Regions from separate parts of the Homo sapiens genome. Here region 2 is linked to region 1. Evidence: fine-mapped expression QTL. A gene starts in region 1. The other region holds a variant in brackets. All regions are shown on one strand. Distances are from middle to middle.

Region 1 (5,000 bases):
CAGAAAACTAGCACAGGAATGGAAAACCAAACACTGCATGTTCTCACTCATAAGTGGGAGTTGAACAATGAGAACATATGGGCACAGGGAGGGGAACATCACACACTGGGGCCTGTCAGGGGGTGTGGGGCAAGGGGAGGGATAGCATTAGGAGAAATACCTAATGTAGATGACAGGTTGCTGGGTCCAGCAAACCACCATGGCACCTGTATTCCTATGTAACAAACCTGCACATTCTGCACATGTATCCCAGAACTTAAATATAATTTAAAAAAAAAATCCAAACCTCCTACTTAAAACCTTTAAGAAAAGAAGATGAAAAACATGCACAAATACAAATCAAAAATAAAGTAAAATTTTAGTGAGTGAATACATTTCACTATTGCCTCCAAAATAAATGGTCTGCAGTCTGATTTTATCTGTCATCTGTAATTAAACTGAAAACTAACCAAAAAAGAAGTTCAGAAACCTATGTGATGAAAACATTTAAAATAATCATGCTTCTAAAACTGAAATATATTGTTAAAATGTTATAATCTTGCATACGACTTAAGGTAATTGAATAAGAATCCTTGAGAATTGGTTAAAATGTTCATTTAAAAATCTCAAAATATACTCCATATATACCCAGTAAGATGATTACGATTTGATGATAAATATATACTTGACATCTTGAAAAGAAGGTCTTTTTGTTTTGGAGATTTTTTCTGCACATTTCCACCCCTCAATTTTACTGTACAGATATAATTGGGTACATTGTATAGTATGCATTACTTTAAAATGTCTGTAGTAGAAAAACTTAGCCTACCATTGTCAAGATAACTGCACCATAATTCTACACTGTTCCAAATTCTACCTTGAAATTATCTAAAGAAGCATATCAATTATGCGACCACTTATTTTTTGTTTTTTTAACCCTCTATCTCCTATCAAACCTCCACAGTTTTACAGCATTCTTACTCTGATTGTCACCCCTTTCCTTTCCACAATTCCTCACTCCCTTTGAAGAATAACAGCATTAACAGTGACAACAAAAAGATTGAAGGAAGGGGGTTCAATAGAAGTGGAATATTATTGCATTATTTAAGGGGGTAATCGCTCTGAGAGCTTTCTCTGAAAAATCTGATGAAATCATAAAGAAGATTACAAAACCTTGGGCAGCTGCTTGGCAATGTCTCCTCCCACAAAGACAGCTTCTAAATAAATCCACAGGTTTTGCACCGTCATCCAGCTCTCGATGATGTCTGTTGAGTTGGAAAGGTACTGCACCCATTTTTGAATCTGGGCTTTGAATGGCATATTGTACCTAAAATAAGAAATAGGTTTAGGGTTTGGTTTTGTTTTTGTTGTGCTGTTGTTTCAAATTAAAAAGGTTTTTAAAAATCTTAATTTTTAACCGCTTTCTTTACAACCTTAATTATGTTGCTGGCTTTTAAAGTGATGCAACCAAGTGATTAATTCATCCCCACTTACTGTTCATTGTTAGTCTAGCTTTTTCCCTTTTGATCCAGAGCATAGAGAAGGGTGGGAGATTTATAATCTAAGGAGTAGATCAGGCATTAGACTTGATTCCACCAAGCTTCCAGGGTAATATAATTACCCTCAGTGCTGCTATGGCTACGAGAATAATATTTGCCCTACTGAGCTTCTGTGCCTATTTCATGGAGTCTCTGGTTTTTCATATAATATGGAGCTTTTATAGAACCATCAGTGGGGACCAGACAACTAATTCAATCTTCAAATATGATAACACCTGGACTCTCTCCTTAGCCTCCCCTTTTCTGAGTCTCTTTCTAACTTCCCACGCACCTGTGTCCAACCCACTCATGTTTGATGTACATGTGTGCAAGATTACTGCCTCTTCCATAGTTAATCTGTCTTCCCCTTTTCCTCTTTGAGACAGACTGCCTGTGGGTGGCCTCCCAATGTCCTTTTTTCCTTCTGCTTTTCCATGTGGGCTCATAATTACCCAGCTAAATTACTGAATTTCCCAGCTTCCCTTTGCAGTAATGTGCAGTCAGAAGACTAAGTTCCACATCAACAGTGCTTAATTTAGCGGAACACTGGAATGATCTCATAGCTGAACACTGGAATCATCTCGCCAGCATTAAAAATTACTGATGCCTGCCTGGGTCCTACGTACAGAGACTCTGATTCAATGGGTCTGGGAAGTGGCCCTGGCATTGGGATTTTTTTAAGTTCCTTCAGTGTATCTGGTACGTTGCAAAGATTGAGAACAACTCTTCTACATGAAATGTGAGTAGTGGCATTGGATGTAATGGGTAGTATGGGGAATAAGGTCACACCTGGGAAAGACAGATGAGTGAGCCAGACCAAGCTTGGGTCCCTGATGATGTGGTAAAGCCCCCATTCCAACCTGAACCACCTACATTAGGAATTCTTTTATGCGTGAGCAATATAAACATCAGTGTTATATTAGCCATTTTGTATGTGGTGTTTCTGTTATTTACAGACAAACTTAATCCTAAATGATTATACAGCCTACCTTTGTGTCTCTTCTTCTCTTTCTTATCCCTTCATGGTTCTCTCTAGCCCTACATAATATGGACTTGAAGTCGTATTATTGCATAAAAGTTTAATTTCCATATTCTTAATTGTTAACCAAATTGTTTTAATATTCCATGCATCTTTCTGAATATTTGTATGCTCTTCACTAGAAATATAGGTCCATAGAAACAGAGATCTTTCCCTTATTTGTTGTTCTACCCACAGCGCCTAGAAGAGTACATCACACACATAGTAAAGGTTCAATAAATATATATTGAAAAAATACTCCTCCCAATAACTCTATCTGTAGATTAGATGCCATTGAAAAGAAAAGTTTCCCCACCCCAACCAGATAATTTTTACTTAATTTACATGAGTGTCTTTTCTATCTCCCTAGGGTATATTATTGCCTGTCTATCCTTTATTCTGGTTTGGTATGAATAGTAACCAAGTTCATTAAAACTCACTAAATCCTGAGAAGTCCAAACTCAAGATTACTAATGGTCTAACTTTATATCCCAATATTACTTTAGTGTAACAAGTAAACTGAAATAAGAGAAATTTTTTTGAAATAGTATGAAGTACACAGTATTTCCAACATTAAAAGTATTGATACACATATATATGGAGAATTGGGTGATATTTTAAAGCTAGAATAGAACAACAAATTCATATCTCAATGGTATCCACTTTCTGCACAATTACCATATATTTGAGAAGATTCTGGGGAACAAAAACATTATTTCAGAAAGAGCAAATGGAAGCAATGAAACAAGGAAATGTAAATTCATGACTGTGTGGTTTGTATGTCCAAAATGTGAGGGGTGGCCACTATGCATTATATACATGTAATGAAAGTTCACATGTGGACAGGCACAGTGGCTCATGCCTGTAATGCCAGCATTTTGGGAGGCCAAGGCGGGCAGATCACCTGAGACCAGGAGTTTGAGACCAGCCTGGCCAACATGGTGAAACCCTGTCTCTACTAAAAATACAAAAATTAGCCAGGCGTGGTGGCTGTTGCCTGTAATCCCAGTACTCAGGAAGCTGCGGCAGAATCACTTGAGCCAGGGAGGCTGAGGTTTCAGTGAGCTGAGATCACGCCATTGCACTCCAGCCTGGGTGACAAAGCAAGATTCCATCTCAAAAAAAAAAAAAAAAAAAAAAAACAAGTTCAAATGTACCCCATAAATTTGTACAAATATAAAAAATAGAGTATGTAAACAACTAAGAGTTTCTAGTCCACAGATATTGGTAAAAAAGGTTTTTCGAGTAAAATGATTATTCTGAAATTCAAAATAATGTTCCTCCTGGATTCTACAGCCTGTAGAGCTATGAGCTGTGCAGTCAGGCTTGTCAGCAGCAAGCTGAAATGTTCCCAAGAGCCGAGTGGCTAATTATACGTTGCATTATTTTGTCCAGTGGATGGTCTCAGACATACCCCACAAATAGAGGATAATGAAATAAAACCAGAGTTACACATGCTCTAACATGTGCCTGAGGCCAAAATGAAAACAAGAATAATTGAAATATAATCTCTTGATGATGTATATATAAGTGGGTACCTGAGTAAAAATATGTTTTGGATATAAAAATTAATTAATCAATGTAATTAAAACAAGTATTTTCAACATTGAGTAAACTATATGAAGGCTATTATTGTAATGGATTTTTCATTAATTTTAAATGTTTGCTATTACGGTTCTCAAATCTAAGGGAAAAGATAGATGGTTTTCCCACCTGTTGCTCAGTAGGGATCCCAGCAACATCAAGCTGTCCTCCATGTTGGCGATGATTTCCGAGGTACTGTCTCCTCTCAAGAGGAGCTCTCCACGGGTTTTAAAGCTGCCGAAGGTGAATGTTTTATTGTCCCATTCATTAATCACTTGCTTCAGCTTTTGCTCAATGTCTCTCTCTTTCACCGCACTGATACAGATGTCCTATCAAAATGGCAAGCTCTCATGTTATTGCATGAAAGTCACACGTCCTTCCTTAATAGTCTACGTGCAATACCCCATCTTCACTATTTGCTTCATATATATATAAATATATATATAAACTTTTATATTTCCAGACCTAAAATGCAATATAATAAACAGAAGGTGTATACGCAGATACTGATGCATGAAGAGAGATGGAGATAAAGATATGACTGAAAAATAGAACTTTAATTTATAAAATTTCCCAGCAAACTTGCCCAAAAGGAAAGATGACAGAAAATATATGCAAATCACTTTTAAATTTTGAAACTTTAATCACTGATTCAAAATTCAATGTATTTCTGATCTACCTCTAAAGTCAAGTGAATGCAGCATGTGAATGAACACAGGTAGCAGAAACCTGATTCTCCCATGGCTCTGTTGACTTTCCCAGTCTCCTCATGGCCTCAACCTTCTCCTAGACCATTAGTCAAGCCCTTCCTTTACCCTCATTTCTTCCCACCTATGTTCCCCCTCTGGGTGAGCTCATTTACACCCATGACTTCAATCACT
Region 2 (5,000 bases), 38 kb after region 1:
CACATGGTTACATAGCCTCCCATTTAATTCAGGGCTACAAACCTTTATACAAAGGACTTGGATAGATGCTTGTTCTAGAAAGATCTACCCGATTTTGTCCCATTACTTCTCTGATCTCATCTCCAACCACTCTTTCCCTCTCTTACCTGCACTTGCCTGACTGTCTTCCTTTCTGGTCCTGAGCCTCAGGGCCTTTGCACCTCCTTCAAATAAGTACTCAAATGATACTTTCTCAATTATACCTGTCCTGACTACCTGTTTAAGATTATAAACCACCACCAAAACCACTCACACATTTTATCCCCCTTTTTTGTCCATAATAACTATCACTTTATTACAATAGACTATATTAATTTACTTACTTACAGTGTTCATTTTCTGTTTTACCCAATTAGACTATAAGTTCTACAAGGACAAGAATTTTGTCTGCTTTGTCCAGTGAGCCTGAACCAGTGCCTGGCACATAGGAGATAATAAATCAATATCTATCTAATTAGTTGTTATCAGAAGGATTTTTCATCTGAAATGGGCATTCTCATCTTTCACTGAAAGGTACATAATGTCAAACTGTGTCAGTATTATTTACATAATGTCAAACTGTCAATATTTTGTTCATATGTAACCATGTCAATATTAATAATCATTAATTATAAGAAACTAACTTTAATGTGCCCCATAAATACAGTTGGTATTAAGGTCATATATGTGCATGTTGGTTTTACCTTGATAATAGATGAATGTTTTCCAAACTGTTTTGCCTAGAGTACTAGGTCCAAAGAGATTCTATAAGAAAAAATGTCCCTTTGATAGATAAATTTTGAAAATGCTGCATACAATATCTCCCCTCTTGGGTGGTCACAGCTAATATTAATGATTCTTAGAAACCTGCTTAAGGAAGTAAGAAGCCTTGCAAGGCTTTGAAAATTTTGTTAAACACAGTATTTCCCAGATGGACCTCATAATCCTTTCCTCATATAATGTTTTTCCACAATTTCTATAAGATTCTTTCAATGTCCATAAAAGCCACTTTAGAAAAGTCTAAATTTTCTGGTTCTATTCGCAGCTACTTACATATTTCCTGAAACTTGTATCCACTGCTTGTTTTTTTTCAATGTCCACCAGTTATTCTATCTGGAAGCAGTTCTTAGAATCTGCTTCTAGCAGGCATTCTACTTCCCACCTTTAATCCCAGAAGGGATTACTCAACTGCTTTGACAAAAGAGAAACCCAGGCTTAGAAGGTGAAGTCATTTACCCAAAGATAATGATTTGAATCCAGATTAAATTGGCTTCAGAACCTATATTTGTAACTATTAGCCTGTACTTGGTCTTCTCTTTCTAGTTAAACTGTCTTCCAAGGAAGAGATGAAGAAACAAATTCTCAGCTACTTTGGCATATCTGCAAAAGCCTGAAAGCTCTGTCAAATATTCAGCACAATAATTCTGCAACACTTCAGATGGTCACCTAAACCTGCCAATAGATCTGCTTTGACCAGCTACTCAGGTTGAGCAGAAACTTTTAACTCTCAACCTCCAAGATAATAAATGTTAATGAGATGATAATTTACTCCCTTGAATTGTCATTTAAAACATTCTTTGATCCTCTTCCCTTCATGGGGGAGGGGGGAACCACATCCCCTTTTTTTGAATCTGGGTAGGTTTACAGTCCAACAGAGTACAACAGAGATGATGCTGTGAGACATCTGAGGCTATTATAAAGACCATGTGACTTCTTTATTGTTCACTGTAGCGCTTGTTCTTGAAACCCTGAGCTGCCATATAAGAAATTCTACTAGCCAGAGGCCTCCATACTGGAAGGCCATGTATAGATGTGCCTGTTCACAGTCCCACTGGAGTGTACCTTCCAGCTTTCCTCAGGAAAGAAACAGAAACTAGAAGAACCCTTCTTGGACCTTACAGATTGAACATCTGCCAGTTGAATACCAATAAACAACCTTTGTCAACAATACATGGAACAGAAGAATCACCTATGCAAGCCCCACTCAAGTTCTTTACCCATAAAGTCATGATATAATGATACGGTTATTGTAAACCCTACAACGTGCTTACAAGTGTTTGTTGCCTGAAACAGACAAGTGAAACAACAACTCTGCAAATACAATTAAATTATCAGTAATTCCATAATCTTATAATTATAGTTTCTTAGTAAAAATATTATTTTCTTTATGAATATGTAAATTGACTAAGTGA[G/A]TTTCCTAATGTGAAAGAGTCTAAAAGGGAATCTCAACATGCTGACTGGTATTTTATGAGTCTACATTTGAGGAATGTCTGTCCATTGCCAATACAACTTTTTAATATGACATGAAGTGGTGGGAAGACGATGGACTACAAGTCTGGGTTCTGGTCTTACTTCTGCCACTTTGTAGCTATGAGACCTTTGCTAAATCTTTTAACTTCTCTAAGCCACAGTTTTGTCATCTACGAAATAAAATAATAGTATTCTGTCCTACTTACCTAACGTAGTGGTAGAAAAGATCAGATGAAATAATGAGCATGAAAATGGCTTTAAATGTAAAGTACAGTGCAAGTGCATGGACTTAGTATTGTCACGTGATGTTAACCACTATGAAATTTTAACAATGGTTTCCATGTTGTCAGATTCCATGGCCGCATCTCTGATCTCACCTTCTTCATCCCCTGGGTAGCAGCATTTGCCACTGGTGACCAGTCCCTCTCTCAGTAGCCTTTTCATACCCTTGGCTTCCTTTTTTTGTTGTTTTTTGTTTGTTTGTTTTTTGAGACGGATCTCGCTCTGTCACCCAGGCTGGAGTGCAGTGGTGCAATCTCAGCTCACTGCAACCTCCATCTCTAGGTTCAAGAGATTCTCCTGCCTCGGCCTCCCAAGTAGCTGAGATTACAGGCACATGCCAACATGTTCAGCTAATTTTTGTATTTTTAATAGAGACGGGGTTTCACCACGTTGGCCAGGCTGGTCTCGAACTCCTGACCTCAGGTGATCTGCCAGTCTCAGCCTCCCAAAGTGCTGGGATTACAGGCATGAGCCACCGTGCCCGGCCATCCTTGGTCTCCTTGACACTTGGTTTCTTCCCAGCTCAGAGGTCAGTCCTCTGTTTTATTTGCACACCTGTCTTCTTCTTTCAGATCTGTTAATACTGGAACAACCCAATGCTTGGCCCAGTGGCCCTCCATTCTTCTCTGTCTGTATTCTCTCCCCTAAGAGATCTCATCCAGGACAATGACATTAAATAACAATGATATTCTGATAACTCTCAGAAGCATGCCTCCCACTTTGGCTTCTCCACTGAACTCCAGACTTAAGTATCCAACTGCATGGACAACACTGCCACTTGGCTGTCTAAAAACTATCTTGTACTTAAATGGGAACTACTGATTCCCTCCTGCTGCTCCAAATACACTAGTTTCGGTTTTCGCCATCTCCATAACTTGAACTTACAGTCAGGGCCCCTGCATGGTATTGTGCAAGTTATGAAGAATGCAACCTACACAGCATTCTACGGCACCCCTGCTTTAATTCATGGAACTGCTCACACCAAAACCACAGGTATTATTCCTGAGTTCTCTTATAACCTGACTGTTGACATAACTCTAAATTCTCCAAACAACTCTGCTGCCATCCCAGTTCAAGCTCTCATCTTCATCCTGGGCCAGTGCAACACTTCACAAACAGGCTTCCCGCTGATACCCCTCGTCCCTCTTAACATCCATTTTCCACCCAGCAGTAAGAATAACTTTTATTATAAAAAGAGATCGTGCCTTTTTCAGTGGCTCGAAATCCTCCAATGGTTTCCTGGTACACTCAAAATAAAACCCAAGCTTCTCATCTTGGCCTGCAAGACCTGTAACGGCCTGGCCCCAGCCAACTCTGCAGCTGCACCCCATGGCACTGTCCCCTCAGTCACTCCATTCATCCTGGCCACTTTCTGCTCCTTGAATATGACACATCACCATATTTTTTTATAATACATTCCAGAGCTAGCCAAGAATGGGGGGAAAAAATAAAAGTAGTATACCTTCATGTTACTGAAGTTCCTTTTGTATCTATCTCGTTTCTGGAAGAGGGAAGTTGCCAGTGGAGAGACTTCCAGACCCATCTGGGCCATGCACTCTGTTTCTCTAAATAAGATTAATATCTGAGGGTCAAAGTTTACAAACAATTCCCCTGTGCCTGGAGCCTTCACCAATAATGAAGCCTCAAGACCTACATGAATTTCTTCAATCTGTGGGAAGAAACCAACATCATTACTATCAGAAAGTTCAATTCATGCAGAGTATCTAGCTCAGCTATCTCTAGGAATAAGGATCATTAAATGTTCTTCCATGGATTTGAGCTTCCTAAATTAAGGGCAATAAGATCACTCACTCTTCTCCTAAATCCAGTCTCATACAATAGCCTTCAAGTTCTTGGTGTTGATGTTGGGCAGTCAATTCAATAAAACCTTTCAATGACTCTAACACTGATAAATAAGTGGACACTGCAACAGTGGTGGCGTCTCAAAAGCCATTTAGCTACCTGATACCTTCATGCCTACTCTATTATTCTTCCTAATAAAAGTTTCGTAAGACCTCCTAAACTCAGTTTTTACTTATCTAGAAAAACAATGAACACAGCTATGGAGACATCGCATCCTGACAGCCTACAAAGAAATACATGTATTGGTAGGATATGCTATGATTAACCAGTTGTACAACAAAAGAAAATTTGAAACTTTGTTTAACAGATGTGCTAGTGTTTACTGACATATTTAGGATCTGACTGAATTTTAAAAAGCAAGATATCCTAATAGATTGGGCATAGGAACCAATAAACAAGATCTTCTCACTTTGGAGTTCGTAAATTAAATAAAAATGGGGTTCTGTTACCTGGCTTGTGGTTTCTTTTCAAATCTAATAATTATTTTTCTTTGTGGACATATTACACTCTGAACGCTTAGATTCAACCCATCTGCCTTACAAAACACCTACAAATCCAGCTTTCTAAAGAAATAACACTGTCAAATG

Alleles and levels. Positions count from the first base shown, and alleles are read on the strand shown. Sizes are in standard deviations (SD) of each study's normalised expression.
With allele G in place of A in region 2, the expression in prefrontal cortex of the gene that starts at base 2,140 in region 1 is lower (moderate effect, 0.56 SD a copy in GTEx).

The links. PIP is the estimated chance that this variant, and not a neighbour inherited with it, causes the effect.
Region 2: its variant is the best candidate, but not a certain one, in a credible set for the expression of DNAH5-AS1 in prefrontal cortex (GTEx, PIP 0.51).

The regions. Positions count from the first base shown.
Region 1 is chr5:13,858,300-13,863,299 of GRCh38, forward strand. DNAH5-AS1 (DNAH5 antisense RNA 1) reads left to right here and starts at 2,140. Exons shown (of 3, transcript NR_199035.1): 1 at 2,140-2,256. It overlaps DNAH5 (dynein axonemal heavy chain 5), which reads right to left. Exons shown (of 79, transcript NM_001369.3): 29 at 4,249-4,448; 30 at 1,153-1,306. RefSeq lists an enhancer at 568-1,767.
Region 2 is chr5:13,896,194-13,901,193 of GRCh38, forward strand. It overlaps DNAH5 (dynein axonemal heavy chain 5), which reads right to left. Exons shown (of 79, transcript NM_001369.3): 15 at 4,013-4,219. DNAH5-AS1 (DNAH5 antisense RNA 1) reads left to right here. Exons shown (of 3, transcript NR_199035.1): 2 at 396-552; 3 at 1,342-4,859. Among named protein-coding and RNA genes, the nearest start is that of DNAH5-AS1, 38 kb to the left of the region's middle. The variant G/A (reference allele first, on the strand shown) is at 2,211.